2 linked regions of the Homo sapiens genome follow. The protein of the gene in region 1 interacts with the protein of each later gene in a biochemical or structural test. Each region holds a gene or a part of one and is shown on either strand. Other genes may lie near its edges.

Evidence for each region.
Region 2: the proteins of RNH1 (region 1) and ANG are reported together in a solved structure, tested with the Homo sapiens proteins (3 studies listed by BioGRID and IntAct, with this or other methods).

Annotation. Positions count from the first base shown.
Region 1 is NC_000011.10:504,231-512,199, reverse strand, and holds the start of RNH1 (ribonuclease inhibitor), read left to right. Parts: upstream 1-4,957; 5' UTR 4,958-5,087; exon of another isoform or gene 5,088-5,738; intron 5,739-7,198; exon of another isoform or gene 7,199-7,203; 5' UTR 7,204-7,376; intron 7,377-7,723; exon of another isoform or gene 7,724-7,773; intron 7,774-7,969. UniProt on the Homo sapiens protein: Ribonuclease inhibitor which inhibits RNASE1, RNASE2 and angiogenin (ANG). May play a role in redox homeostasis. Required to inhibit the cytotoxic tRNA ribonuclease activity of ANG in the cytoplasm in absence of stress.
Region 2 is NC_000014.9:20,684,661-20,691,767, forward strand, and holds the start of ANG (angiogenin precursor), read left to right. Parts: upstream 1-4,103; 5' UTR 4,104-4,214; intron 4,215-7,107. UniProt on the Homo sapiens protein: Secreted ribonuclease that can either promote or restrict cell proliferation of target cells, depending on the context. Endocytosed in target cells via its receptor PLXNB2 and translocates to the cytoplasm or nucleus.

The sequences.
Region 1 (7,969 bases):
GAGGCCAGGGCAGGCAGATAACGAGGTCAAGAGATTGAGACCAGCCTGTCCAACGTGGTGAAACACTGTCTCTACCAAAAATACAAAAATTAGCTGGGTGTGGTGGCACGCACCTGTAGTCCCAGCTACTCGGGAGGCTGAGGCGGAAGAATCACTTGAGGCCAGGAGGCGGAGGTTGCAGTGAGCCGAGATCACGCCACTGCACTCCTGACTGGGTGACAAAGTAAGACTCCATCTCAAAAAAAAAAAAATTCGCCTCCTAACCTCACTGAGTTAACTGATCAAGACCTCTCATGCTCTGCCGCTGCACAGCTGTCCCTCCAGCGCCTTGTCTGTGTGTGTGGGGGGTGGCTGGTGTTTTGAATATCTTCCGGTTCCCAGAGGCTAGCTCAGTGTCTGACAGGGCCCTGTGGGAGTGTCTAATTCTCACAGCATCTCCGTGCAGGAGGGAAGGAGAGGGTCACGCCTGGGCCCTGAGGCATCTTGTATCTGAGGCCCCCACATCAGCACGGATCTCCAGAGGCATATACTGTCCTGCCGACTGGTCTGCTTTCTGTCTGATTGAAATTGGAGGCTCAAAGCCAAGACCTTCTCACTTGCAGTGAAGAACCCTTATGGGGCAAAGTTTTCCCCTCAACCTGCTCTATCATGAGCTCCTCCTGCTAAGTGGCAGAGCTTAGCCCGTGAATCAGAGGATACGCTACATTTCAAACCTTAGGAGCAGTCCTGTCACCAAAATTCAGCTGGTCATTGTCAGTTTAACTACCCACTACGTAACCACTCACGTATGAACCTGCAACAGCCACCAATCAAGTTGAATTCTCAAATATTTGCTACTTCATCCTCAATGTTTTCCCATTTCTTTTTTTTTTTTTTTTTGAGACGGAGTCTAGCTCTGTCGCCCAGGCTGGAGTGCAGTGGCGCGATCTTGGCTCACTGCAAGCTCCGCCTCCCGGGTTCACGCCATTCTCCTGCCTCAGCCTCCCAAGTAGCTGGGACTACAGGCGCCCGCCACCACGCCCGGCTAATTTTTTGTATTTTTAGTAGAGACGCGGTTTTACCGTGTTAGCCAGGATGGTCTCGATCTCCTGACCTTGTGATCCGCCCGCCTCGGCCTCCCAAAGTGCTGGGATGACAGGTGTGAGCCACCGTGCCGGGCCAGTGTTTTCCCATTTCACGTGCTGCGTGTGAAAATCCACTGCGTGCGACACTTGCGCTATGTGCACTTTATGTACACATCTCATACTTTGTTAAAAAGGCACTTTCAGACAAACATATTATTTATTTATTTAGAGACATGGTTCACTCTGTCACCCAGGCTGGAGTGCAGTGGTGTGGTCTCTGCTCACCGCAACCTCCACCTTCTGGGTTCAAGTGATTCTCCTGCCTCAGCCTCCCAAGTAGCTGGGATTACAGGTGCAGGCCACCACGCCCAGCTCATTTTTTTGTATTTTTTTTTTGAGATGGAGTTTTGCTTTTTGTTGCCCAGGCTGGAGTGCAATGGCGTGATCTCGGCTCACCAGAACCTCTGCCTCCTGGGTTCAAGCGATTCTTATGCCTCAGTCTCCCGAGTAGCTGGGATTACAGGCATGTGCCACCATGCCTGGCTAATTTTTGTATTATTAGTAGAGACGGGGTTTCTCCATGTTGGTCAGGCTGGTCTTGAACTCCCGACCGCAAATGATCTGCCTGCCTTGGCCTCCCAACATGCTGGGATTACAGGTGTGAGCCACTGTGCCCAGCCATTTTTTTGTATTTTTAGTAGAGATGGGGTTTCACCATGTTGGCCAGGCTAGTCTTGAACTCCTGACCTCAAATGATCCGCCTGCCTCGGCCTCCCAACGTGCTGGGATTACAGGCGTGAGCCACCGTGCCTGACCTGAGTATATTTATAGAAGTAGAACAGGCACAGGACTCTCCACCCAAAGTCACCCTGGTGCCTCTCTCCCCGGGGTCTGACTTAGGCCTTCAGCACCACGGTGTTTTCTCTAGATGGCATCTCATGAACACTGGGGGTCTCTTGCCTCAGCCTGTCCCTGGATTCCCTTTCATGGGGAATGTAAAAGCTCCCTATTTAAGCTAACGTGTAGGCTGGTGGGGCTGGATGTGAGGGAGGGGCAGGTGGAGAAGGAAAGGGCAGCATCCCTCAGATCTGTGTGGAGCAGGATCGGAAGGAAAGGCACACTCGAGTCGGCCAGGACCCGGGGAAATGAGCGAGAATGGTCAGCTCTGGGGCGGTATATAAAACTGGGGGTGGGAATACTTCCATATACTCCCAATTCCACAGTGGGTGAACTGAGTAAGTTTAAAAATAAGATAAAGACATAACGAGGTGAGGCAGGTAAGTTCAAAAATAAAAATGAAGGCCAGGCACTTTGGGAGGTTGAGGCGGGCGAATCACAAGGTCAGGAGCTCGAGACCATCCTGGCTAACACGCTGAAACCCTGTCTCTATTAAAATTACAAAAAAAAAAAAAAAAAAAAAATTAGCCGGGCGTGGTGGCAGGTGCCTGTAGTCCCAGCTACTCGGGAGGCTGAGGCAGGAGAATGGCTTGAACCTGGGAGGCGGAGCTTACAGTGAGCCGAGATCGCGCCACTGCACTCCAGCCTGGGCGACAGAGCGAGACTCCATCTCAATAAAATAAAATAAAAATGAAGACATACCTTTCAGGGGCTGTGGCCGCACTGTCCAGGAGGGAGGCCCGGCCACAGACACCATGCTGGCCGTGCGCTCAGCACCTATACATACCTGGGCACCTTCCCCACAAGGTGTCACAAAAGGGAGCCCAACAGCCATTTTAAACATTTTCTTCACTCTTATGAGAATTGCCACGAACAAATCTAAGAGATCATGGCAAAGAAAAGAATGAAATGAAACCAGAACATTTCAGCAGCTTTTGCAAAGATGTCAAGAGAACCAGTCCAGGAGTCAGACTGGCGGCATCCTTCCAGCTTCTTGTCATGAATTCTAAACCTCACATCCAGACTCCAAAGCTTAGAGAGTTAAAGAATCAGCTACTGGTCACCAAGCTCACGTGTGCAGGATGAGGGTCACAGCCAGGTTGGCTGCCTTCCAGCCCTGAGCTTTCTTGGGGGTGTGTGTGTGTGTGTGTGAACCACCTTCTTTTTGAGACGGAGTTTCTTTTTTCTTTTTTGAGATGGAGTTTCGCTCTTGTTGCCCAGGCTGGAGTACAGTGGCACGATCTTGGCTCACTGCAACCTCTGCCTCCTGGGTTCAAGTGGTTCTCCTGCCTCAGCCTCCTGAGTAGCTGGGATTACAGGCATGCACCACCATGCCTGGCTAAGTTTTTGTAATTTTAGTAGAGATGGGGTTTCATCATCTTGGCCAGGCTGGTCTTGAACTCCTGACCTCAGGTGATCTGCCTGCCTTGGCCTCCCAAAGTGTTGGAATTACAGGTGTGAGCCACCGCGCCCAGCCAGAGTTTCATCTTGTTGCCCGAACTGGAGTGCAATGGTGTGGTCTAGGCTCGCTGCAACCTCTGCTTCCCGTGTTCAAGCGATTCTCCTGCCTCAGCCTCCCAAGTAGCTGGAATTACAGGTGCCCACCACCATGCCTGGCTAATTTTTGTATTTTTAGTAGAGATGGGGTTTCACCACGTTGGCCAGGCTGGTCTTGAACTCCTGACCTCAGGTGATCCACCCTTCTCGGTCTCCCAAAGTGTTGGGGTTACAGGTGTGAGCCACCACGCCCGGCCAGAACCACCTTCTTTAAAGATGATCAGGCCGGGTGTAGTGGCTTATGCCAGTAATTCCAGCGATATGGGAGGCTGAAGCAGGAGGATCACTTGAGCCCAATTCAAGACCAGGCTGGGCAACACAGGGAGACCTCTTCTCTACATAAAATACAACAATTAGCCAGGCGTGCTGGCGCCTGTGGTACCAGCTACTTGGGAGGCTGAGGCGGGAGGATCACTGGAGTCCGGGAGGTGGAGGCTGCAGCGAGCTGGGATCGCGCCACTGCAGTACAGCCTAAGCAGTGGAGTGAGACCCTGTCTCGAAAACAAATACCTAATAAAGGCAGTCAGAGGAGAGGTTTAGCAAATTGCTAAAGAACAAATCTGAGATACCGTTAGTTTCCTTACTTGCAATCTTCATCTGCCAAAATGTCAATTCTGTGAATTGCGGACTAGTCAAAAACTTAAAGAAAACCCACTTTTGTGGAGGTGGGGTCGCTTTGCGTTTCCCAGGCTGGTCTGGAACTCGGCCTGCGCCCCTCAGTGCCAGGGCTCCAGGCGACGCTCGGGTGTCGGCAGCAGAGTGGACGCAGGAGCAGCTCGGACCGCGCTCAGAACACTCGGGACGAGGCCGCGGCTCCGCAGGCCTTGCGGGCTGGGGTCCCACGAAACAAAGGCGGCAGCCAGTGGCCAGGACGGGCAGCGTGGTTCACGGGGCCGTGGCTCCCTCGGGGGTCGCGAGCTCGGCGCAAACGAGCCCCTCTACCAAGGTCGCCTAGAGTCGCGACCCCGACATGCGGAGCCGCCCCAGGGGGGTTTCTCCCGGGTCCCTCCTGTCCCGAGGCGGCCGCTTTCTCCGGGGGCCGCGCCCCGCGCCCCAGCAAGGCCCGACCCGCGCCTGCGATTCCGCCCCCAAGGCGCTGCCGCACCGGGCCCCGGCCTCTTCCTCCGAGGATTCTCAGGAATTGCTGAGACTTGCGTGCCAGTGCGAGGCCCACAACACGCACACGCGCCCGCGCCCGCCAGACCCCGCCCCCGGCACCAAGCCCCGCCTACTGGGGGAGACCACGCCCCCAAGCGAGACCTCCCTCACCGAGCCACGCCCCACCAGGCCCCGCCGCTGCGCCAAGACTGTGCTTAGCCGAGCCCCGCCCGCCGGGCCCCGCCCCGACCCCGAGACTACTCCCGCCAGGCCCCGCCCCCGCGCCGAGCCCCGCCCAGTAGTCCCCGCCCACGCACCTGACCACGCCCACGAGCCGGCTCGAACACGCCCGCGCCGCTGACTGGCGGGTGGGGTTGTCGACACGTTCAACCCGTTCTGCTGGCTCGAGAACGAAGTAGGCCGTCTCGCTCTGGGTCTCCAGGCCCGCGACCGTCCGCCAGTCGTCCCGAGGTCAGTAGCTCCAGCGGTGCGTCAGCGTCTAGCCAGGCCTCGCCCACGCCGGCCTTGGTCGGGCTTCTTGTAGACGCGGGCCTGGCGCTATTGAGGCCGTTGCTGCGCGGGCGAGTGGCGCGCTCCCGTGGCGGGGCGGGGTCGGGCGGGGCAGGGGTCCGGGGCTATCGAGGCGGGGCCGAGGTTGCGCTGGGCAGCTGCGCCGCCGGGCGGACGTGGCGCGCCTTGAGGACGTCATCGCGGTGCACGCTCCCCTTTGGGGCTTGCCGGAAGTCCTTGCCCGGGGCGCGGGGCTGCGCCTGCGTGGTTCGTCCTCACGTGGCCGTCAAGCCCTCTAGTGCCTTAGATTCCAGCGAGCTACGCAAGCAATCCTGGCCCAGCCGAGCTTGCTTCCCCAAATCCCGTAATCCTTGACCTTATTCCCCCAAAGAAGCGGCCTCCCGGGAAGGAGCGCCCTGGCGGAGAAGACTCGAACGGCTCCCACAGCCGGGCGTTGGGGGAAAGGTGGGCGGTCTTGGTCGTGCGAGGTCGGGGAGGGAGGGTCCTCCGCTCTCCATTGCGGAGCTTCGCTCCGGGACCACCGGGGGACCGGACGCCGGGCCGCGAAGCTGCCGCCTGGGGCTGCGGGGAGGAGAGCAACATAACTGGAATGGCACTTAGGGGCCGGTGTCAGGGTTGTCACCGGGGTTGGCGGAAATGACGAAGGGGCCCCAGGCACGTCGTGTTACTGGGCGAGGTTCCAGCCAAGGTGCCCACGCGCCTTGGGGGAAACCAGAGGACTTCTGCACCGTTTCCCGAGGACAGTTTGGCAGTGTTTCAGAAGGGCCTTAGAACCAGGCAGGCCCCCTTCTAGGATGGTGGAAAGCCTAAAGATCTGAAAACGGTCTCAAGTGTCGTCTTAGCGATTGGCTGACTAAACCGAATGCAAGCCGGAGACTGCACACGATGTTGCCGTTAACAGTTACACTGGGCCGGGCAGTCAGAGGCAGGCGGATCACCTGAGGTCAGGAGTTCGAGAACAGCCTGGCCAACATGGTGAAAACCCGTCTCTACTAAAAATACAAAATTAGCCGGGCGTGGTGGCAGGCGCCTATAATCCCAGCTACTTGGGAGGTTGAGGTAGGAGAATGGCTTGAACTCAGGAGGCGGAGGTTGCGGTGAGCCGAGATCGTGCCACTGCACTCCAGCCGGCTGACAAGAGCGAAACTCCTTCTCAAAAAAAAAAAAAAAAAAAAAAAGTTACATTAGGCTGGGTGCGCTGCAGCCTGTAATCCCAGCACTTTGGGAGGCCGAGGCGGGCGGATCTCTTGAGCCCAGGAGTTTGCGACCAACATACTGAGTTTGGCCAAAATAGTGAGACCCCCGTCTCTACAAAAGATAGAAAAAATTAGCCAGTTGCGGTAGTGAACGCTTGTAGTCCCAGCTACTTGGGACGCTGAGGGAGGAGGAGCACTTGAGCCCTGGAAGAGGAGGCTGCAGTGAGCTATTTTCTCATCCCTGCTATAACGAATTTGTCACAGGCTGTTTTATAGGCCTGGAGCTCAGAAGCCCGAAGTGAGTTTTAGGAGGTTAAAATCAAGGTGTTGGCAAGGGTAGTTCCTTCTGGAGTTTCCCAAGGAGAATCTGCTTCTTTTCCTCTTCCAACTTCTAGAGGCCACCTTCTTCCATCTTCAAAACCTACTGTCTCTGCATAAGAACTCTCATGATTATATGCCGGCCGCCCAGACACCCCAGGGTAGCCTTCACATCTCAATATTCTTAATATTTGCAAAGTCCCTTTTGCCACTTAAGGTAACACCACAGGTTTGGAGATTAGGAGGTGGACATCTTTCAGGGCCATTCTTATTTTAAAAAATGTACTGTCGATAAGAATAGTTAAAATGTAAAATATTTGAAGGGATTTATTCTGAATCGAATATGAGTGACCGCGGCCGGTGACACAGCCCTCAGGGGATCCTGGGAACATGTGCCCAAGGTGGTTGGGGCAGTTTGGTTTTACATGTTTTAGAGAGACATGAGGCATTAATGAAATACATTTAAGATATCCATTGGTTTGGTCCAGAAAGGCGGGACCAAACAAAAAAAAAAAGATTTTGAACATGCTTCCCGAGCTCAGGCATGAAGAACTCTTGACTGACAGAAACGGAGGGTGTGTCCAAAGTTTTGAGGACGGCCGAGCGGCGCTCCAAAACCCGTCCTCACAGCCTCGCCCCGTTCGCCTCAGCTACAACAAATCATCGTCAACCTGTTCCACCTTCTCCAGTCTGGTAGCAAAAAGGGGTGTCTCAGGTTTGCTTTATTTTATTGTTTGGGCAATTCCTGGAATCCGGCCTGCTTGTGGGAGGAGGCAGGGGCCGGTCCCTCGAGGGTGGTGGGAGCTGCCAGAGCTGGAGGGATGGTCTGGGGGAAGGCGGCTGTACGGTGGAAAGGCTGGTTGGGGCCAGAGTGGGAAACGGGATGCGGACGTCAGGCTTCACCCCCGACCCAGGGGGGAGTGGGAAAGCTGGGGTAGTAGCTGGGACGAGGCCCGGGGGCTGAGCCCAGAGGGTCGAGTGGGCGACGACTAGCGGGCGCGGCCCCCAGGGTGGACTCCCCGCCAGCCCCGGCCTGGAGGCTCCGCCCGCCCCCGCCTGGGCGGAAGGAACGCGGAGCGGCTCTGGCCTTGGGTCTGCGGCGGCGGCGTCGGGTGAGCGTCCCGGGCGGAGCGGGCGCGGGCGGGGGCAGAGAGGCAGGGGAGACCCCCTTCGTGTTTTTGTGAGGTTTCCTCCCAGCCCTTTAGTCTGCAGCAGGGTGTCCAGAACTAGCAGGTTCGAGGGACTCGACGCGGGCGCGGGCGGGGGTCCCAGGGACCGGGAACTTTTGCGCGTCGCCTGAGCGTGGCC
Region 2 (7,107 bases), on another chromosome or scaffold:
CGGCTCCCCATCATCGTACTAGGGAGGAAGAAGCGGGTGAGAAACAAAACTTCTTTCCATTGTCCTGCCCGTTTCTGCGGACTTGTTCTGAGGCCGAGGTAGGTTCACACTCCTGCTCCTCCTCCTCCTCTCTGGTAGCTTCATAAGGGGCGTTTAGGCCGGGGAGTCCTTTCCTAGTAGAGGCAGCTTGGGACTCCTTGGGGAGGAGTTTGCGGGACGGGGCTGGAGAGGGAGGAATGGGGAGGGACGTGAAAGTCCCGTATTTGTATGAGTTAACGACTTTACATTCCCACTCAGGTTTACTTTGCGCAGCTGGGCACAGATGCCAGCTTCTATTGATTAGTAGGCTTGGAGGGGGACCACAGAATCGCCGAACCTAAGGGAAGCCCTAGGAGGCCTGCACTTGCCCACAACTAAGAAAGCTTTGCTAGTTATTCAGGCTAATCACCAGCTTTTTGAAGCAGGCCTTAGTTTTTTGCAAGCGTAACTAACATTTGGGGATCGGTGTTTTCTGTTTACTCTCCTCTGCCTCCTCACCCTTAACCCACCCTCAGCCAGTGTTGTGCAATTCTTAGAGACACTTGCCAACAGCCTCTTCTCTAAGCCTTCCTACTGGAAGGTTGGGATCCTCCGTTTTCTCGCTCTGAGACAGCACGTCAAATGCTAATAGCAGCACATGAGTAAAGCGCAACATCTTTATTAAAACAATTTCAGCACCACTCAGGGGGCTAGGGAAATCTCAGATGAGCCAAGACCCTCCCTCGTGACAGTAAAAATCTTATAATCAAGTCATAATGTAATCAGTAGAAACCCAAGGGACATCATTATCTGTGGCACAGGACCACCTTCCCAGAAGCAGCCTCAGGTATTCAAGACTTACTTAACCACAGAGCCACTAACAAGTTTTGCAAGAGGATAGGTTTATTACATACGCTTCAATTCAAGCAATTCTTTTACTGATGACAAGCAGAGTAAAATAATTTTTGAATTTATGGTAATAGTCAATGTAGGTTTCCTTCGAACAGCAACTTTCAGTGGCCCCTTTAAAGTTAGCTCTGATTGTCTAGAAAGTACTAGTATGGAATATAAAAGTTGTGTGGGCCCGGCACGGTGGCTCATGCCTGTAATCCCAGCACTTTGGGAGGCCGAGGTGGGTGCATCACAAGATCAGGAGTTCGAGACCAGCCTGGCCAAGATGGTGAAACCTCGTCTCTACTAAAAATACAAAAATTAGCCGGGCACGGTGGTGAGCACCTGTAACCCCAGCTACTCGGGAGGCTGAGACAGGAGACTCTCTTGAACCTGGGAGGCGGAGGTTACAGTGAACAGAGATTGCGTCACTGCACTCTAGCCTGGGTGACAGAGCAAGACTCCGTCTTAAAAAAAAAAAAAAAAAAAATTGTGTGGTGCATTGGAAAGCTTCCAGGCCGGCGAATGCAATGAGTTCCTTGGGCAATACATGTCTCTTTCTCTGTTCCTCAGTTGGCTCTTCTTTAATATGAGGGGTGGACAGAGTCTCAGAGGCCCCTCCCACTCTTGTTCTATGACTCCATGGAGTGGTACGATGTTAGTAACAGGACATGAGGCACTCTAGTAATGTGGAGATGAACTATCGTTTGGCAGAGAGGATGGAAAAAATCATTCCAGGAAAAGAGGAATGGCTTTAGCTATTGTTGAAAACAGATAATCAGGTTATAAGCAGGCAAGAGTAAGAGGTTTGTCAAGTTATTGTTGGAAGCATTGGTCACTGTGACTCAAATTAAAGTAGCTGGATAAAAAAGTGGACCAATGAAGGTCAGTGAAACCTTTCTTTAGGAGTTTTTATTGAATCTGTATTTAAGCAGATTCTCTGTAATTCTCTGTAAACAGTTATTCCCGGAAGAATGCCATGAAATACTTGGGAAAGAGGGAATGGGAACAAAGAGTGAGTGGGCACAAAGCCCAGAGTTGGTTGAAAAGCAAATGTTTAATTTTTGTCTTTGTTTGGAAATACAGGCATGTCAGCAGGACTTTGTCCCCACTGTCCTTCAATCAGTAGTGTTGCCTCTTCCTGGAGACGTGGTTCTTCTTGCCACGTGTGCTTTTCCTTCTTTACCTGTTACTTCCGTTATTGAATAAGTTCATGCTTATAGACCTAAAGTGTTAGAATAATAAAGAAATATAGAAATTATTTAGTCCATTCTTCCCATCATCTAATTTTATAATTAGTCCTAAGACAGAATGATACATATATACTCTGTATGAAGGAGGAAAGTGCTCTAACACTAGGGTCCTTGGAAACAGGACCCGTGCATCCCGTGTCTGTGTGCAGGGACATTATTGGCTTGAGGGAGAGAGAGAAAAAAATCTCCAGGAAAGGGGAATGACTTTCAAGTTAAAGCTGTCTGAACATTTAAAAAATATATGAGGTTTTTTGCAATTGGCGATTCCTTCATTTGTATTAAAATTACTGACAAAGATGTGATGTTCCTTAATCATAGAATATAATTCCTTGTTGTATTTTAAACACAAATGACTAAGTGCTTAGATGCATTCTAATGAAATAGTAATTTTTCCCCCAAACCCTACTTTTCATTTCAACAAAACTTCCTTGTGCCAAGTTTAAAAGAAAAACATAAAACTGTCTTTTTGCATTGTGGGCAGATTGTGTATCCTCCAAAGGTTGTCCAGTGAAGGCCCAGAGGCAGAGAAGGGACCTAACTATATTCAGAGGCTGCTGGTTGCCCCACCTCAGCACTACTGCAGAACTCTAAAATCAGAGGCTGCTCTGTTTGTGTGAGTCGGTGCTTGAATTGGTGCTTCAGGCCATGGGGCTGTGTGTGTGCAGGCGCATATGGGTTGTATGCTGTGGCAGGGTACCGCTTTTCGGGACTCAGAGGTGGTGTTGCTTGAGCTAAGCCTGGAAAGACAGGTCAGTTTTCTCCTTGCTTATGAAGGGTTCAAAGTCTGACTCCACCATTCATCTGCTGTTTGTTCTTGGAGTTTCCTCATGAGCAGAGCATATTTACATAATGCCTACCTCACACAGTCCTGGTGTTGGTTGAATGTAGTCATGTATGTGAGAGCTTCACAAAATGAAAGATTGCACTGAATATTATAATTATTGTGATTTCAAGTGCATTTGTTTTACTAGCAGGCAGCCTGTCTTTTCTTGACACCTTCTCAAGTGCAGCCAGACTGAATACTTGGCAGCTAGGTGGGTGACAACAGAGGATTGAGGATTTTTAAAAAGATAACACTGTCCTAGATCCAACACCACTGTGGGCAAATGCTGGGGGTCTGTGAAACAGTTGGTACCCTGCTGCTGTCTGATATTGGAAACTATGAGATCTATAAGGTGATCCTGGTGACCTTTGGCCCACTGTTTTTACGCAAGCAATGGATCTACAGCCCTGCTTTGATGATGGAGATAAGCAATTTTGCAACTACATTACAAGGATCAGAAGATTGAATGTTCAGGGTTAGTCTCTTGTGGACAGGTAAAGATGGAAGAAGGAGAAACCCAGGAAACATGGCAAGCCTGCTTCTGGGGGTTAGAAGCTGAGAAGTTGAGTGTAGGGGGAGGGGCAGTGTACTAATAGCTGTCACACAACCTTCTCTGGAAGTGCTTTCCTGGCTGTATGAAATCGATGGAATAACGTGCTTAGCATCCGTTCATGAAACCAAATGATGTGATACGATAAATAGGATGTGATATGATAAATGATAAATAGTACAGTGGAAAAGCATCCTACTGGAAGACCATATCTTACTCTGTGACATCTTCCAAGGCAGTTCTTGGAGTTGGCCCAGGGAGATCAGAGATGCTATCTTATGGATCCAGACTATTATGTGTGAATAGGGAAACCTCAGTCCTGCCATGAACAAGAGTAAGCACCACAGACAGCAGAAAAGGGCAACTTTTGGACAGAAGGCCATGTTTCTCAAACTTTGTCTTCCAGAACAAATCTCTAATCCATTCAGGTGGGTTAATATCTAACCCAATCATGCCCAGCGAAAAGGTGAATGACCCTCCTCGTTTGTTCAAGAGCAGTGTCCTTGGTTTTCATGTCCCTGCCAGGACTGGGACACTATATATTAGGAACACTATATAATCAGAACCTGGAGAGGCCTCCAGGTTCACACAACTGGAACCCATCTCCAGGAACAAACAGCTGGAACCCATCTCCCGTTGAAGGGAAACTGCCAGATTTTTGTAAGATTCTTCCTCCTGGGTAAACTATTGTTCAATTTGTTTTATATATTATTTCTAGCCATCCATCCATTTTAATGAAACCATTTTCCTCCCTTTAAAGCCTCCAGGCTCAAGCTCATGAATTAAAAAGAAAATGGATCAGATTCTAAAGTTTAAAATGAAAACAGGTTTCTTTTGGGATGGCCTATGTGTGGATAAAGAGAAATTAGTGAGACTGGGAGGAAGTGGAAGTTTAGGAGGGATTTCTAAATTGTGATAAAATCCCCAAAGGCCTGGGGGAGCCATTTGCTGAAGGCCATCGGGAGTCCTCCCCCGTCGTCCACCCCTGTTACAGGCATTACACGTGGCTTAACAAGGAAAGAAACAGTATGTTTTTAGCATTGTTTCCTTCTAACCTTCCCTGCTAATTTCTCTTCTTAGAAAAGTTTTGGATGCTCTTTCAAACAAAGTGGAACACATCCCAAGATCAAAAGAAGGCTCACTGGCAGGTTGAAGGGAAGAAGGAAGGAAAAGCAATAAAGGGATGAATATGCCTTGGGTGTTAGGCTCTTACTTTGGGGGATTTTGCCCTAGGATGTATAAAAGTGTGAAGCCACATTGATGAAAATGATAACTATAGTTACTCATCATAAACTGTCAAGTTAACTCCCTGGTGTGTAAAATTTGATGAATCTTTTGAATACTGAACATTGCCTGTGGGGAGAGGGAGAGAATAATTCTTGTGAATACTAACAGATTCATTTGATACAGAAGATAAAGTTACTCTAAAGAACAGTTGGGGCCAGGTGTGGTGGCTCACACCTGTAATCCCCGCACTTTGGGAAGCCGAGGTAGCCGGATCAACTGAGGTCAGGAGTTCGAGACCAGCCTGGCCGACATGGCGAAACCCCGTCTCTACCAAATACACAAAATTAGCCAAGCGTGGTGGTGGCCGCCTGTAATCCCAGCTACTTGGGAGGCTGAGGCAGGAGAATTGCCTGAACCTGGGAGGTGGAGGTTGCAGTGAGCCAAGATAGCACCACTGCGATCTAGCCTGGGCGATAGAACAAGACTCTGTCTCAAAAAAAAAAAAAAAACAGGCCGGGCGCGGTGGCTCACGCCTGTAATCCCAGCACTTTGGGAGGCCGAGGCGGGTGGATCATGAGGTCAGGAGATCGAGACCATCCTGGCTAACAAGGTGAAACCCCGTCTCTACTAAAAATACAAAAAATTAGCCGGGCGCGGTGGCGGGCGCCTGTAGTCCCAGCTACTCGGGAGGCTGAGGCAGGAGAATGGCGTGAACCCGGGAGGCGGAGCTTGCAGTGAGCCGAGATTGCGCCACTGCAGTCCGCAGTCCGGCCTGGGCGACAGAGCGAGACTCCGTCTCAAAAAAAAAAAAAAAAAAAAAAAAAAAGAAAAGAAAAGAAAAAAAGGACAGAGAACAGCTGGGACTAATTCCACTGACAAAAAGCTGACAGACAGTTACGTGTTTGGGTACAGAAGGATATATCTATAGGACTTTTGCCACCAGATGTGAGGCTTTGCACCCTTGGCTTAGGCAGATTCACTTTTACACCACAAACGATCTGTCTCTTACTGGTTTTCTCCCAATTCCATTTTACCTTGCTTTTTGAGGAATTTAGAGTTGAATATATTGAGAAAGTTTTGAGTGAGGGAGCAGATGTTAGATATTGGTGGTTTTGGTGTACGCTTGCTGAGATTTGGTTCCTGGATGTCTTAGGGAATCAAGATTACAGGCCCCCAACTAAACTTATACAAAATTTGTCTCTGTAACTGAGGGTCACTGGACCTTTGCTATTGAAACTAGCAAAGCCTCTATTATGTTTAATGAGAACCATGAAACTTCAGATTTTTAGAGCTAGCAACTCTTTTATTTTCTTGATGAACAAACCTAGGCCTGGAGAGAAAAATGAAGTCAATTACTTAAAAAATATTAAGGGTTATAATAAGGCAAGCATGTTGATTCAAGGTGAATAATATGAGTTCTGTGGAATATACACCAGTAAGAAACACTAACAAGTAAATACTTCATTGTTCATCCACGATCACGTGGGTAATGGCATGTTTGGAAATGGCACCCGTGAAACCTGACAACAGGTCGGTCTTTATTTTGTGATATCCTTATGGGTAGATTCTGAACTTTGTGGCTTTTACTTTGGCACTTATATCTAATGAGGTGTCCTTGGTCTTAATATCTAATGCAGAGCGAGTTTGGACAGAGATTCTAAACAGGTTCACCAGCTCATACTCCCTTCTGTGAACAGCAATATCCCCACAAGTTATACAGCATTGGCACCTCCTGCAAGTACGGTATTTCCTAGAGAAGACATTAGTAACATTCCTATCCACCACTGCCACCTAACGACTCTTTTAGGTACTAGCAGCTCTGGTTCCGTTTCCTGATTTCTGATTTCTGGGATTCTGGCACCAGGCAGAAGAATGTTGACTGTGTAAGGCAGACCTTTGACATTAGAAGTCAGTATTTGTTCATTACAGAGCAAGAGACTTAATTGATTACAAATCAATAAAACTTTAATAAGATCTTCCAAAAAACTAGAAACAGGAAACACACCCAGGAGACTGAAAAGCATGATGTAAATGTGAAGAACGTGGCAAGTGGGTGGCTTGGCAGCCCAGCAGCTATACTGGAGCAGCTGCATGAGTGAATACTTGTTACTCCTTTAGGGCTGGCTCTCCATTCTACAATCATGTACCTCTTTCTTGATAAACTCCCAAGAACACACTTTCAGCATGGAATTTCAGACTTTTAGAGATAGCAACTCTCTCAAGTATGGACAAATGTCGGTGCGGACAAATTTGATGCACTGCTGAAGAATACCAAATAATATGCTAAGGAATTTTTTCATTCCACAATAATGGAGTAAATAGCAGCTGGAAATGTTTGCATTAAG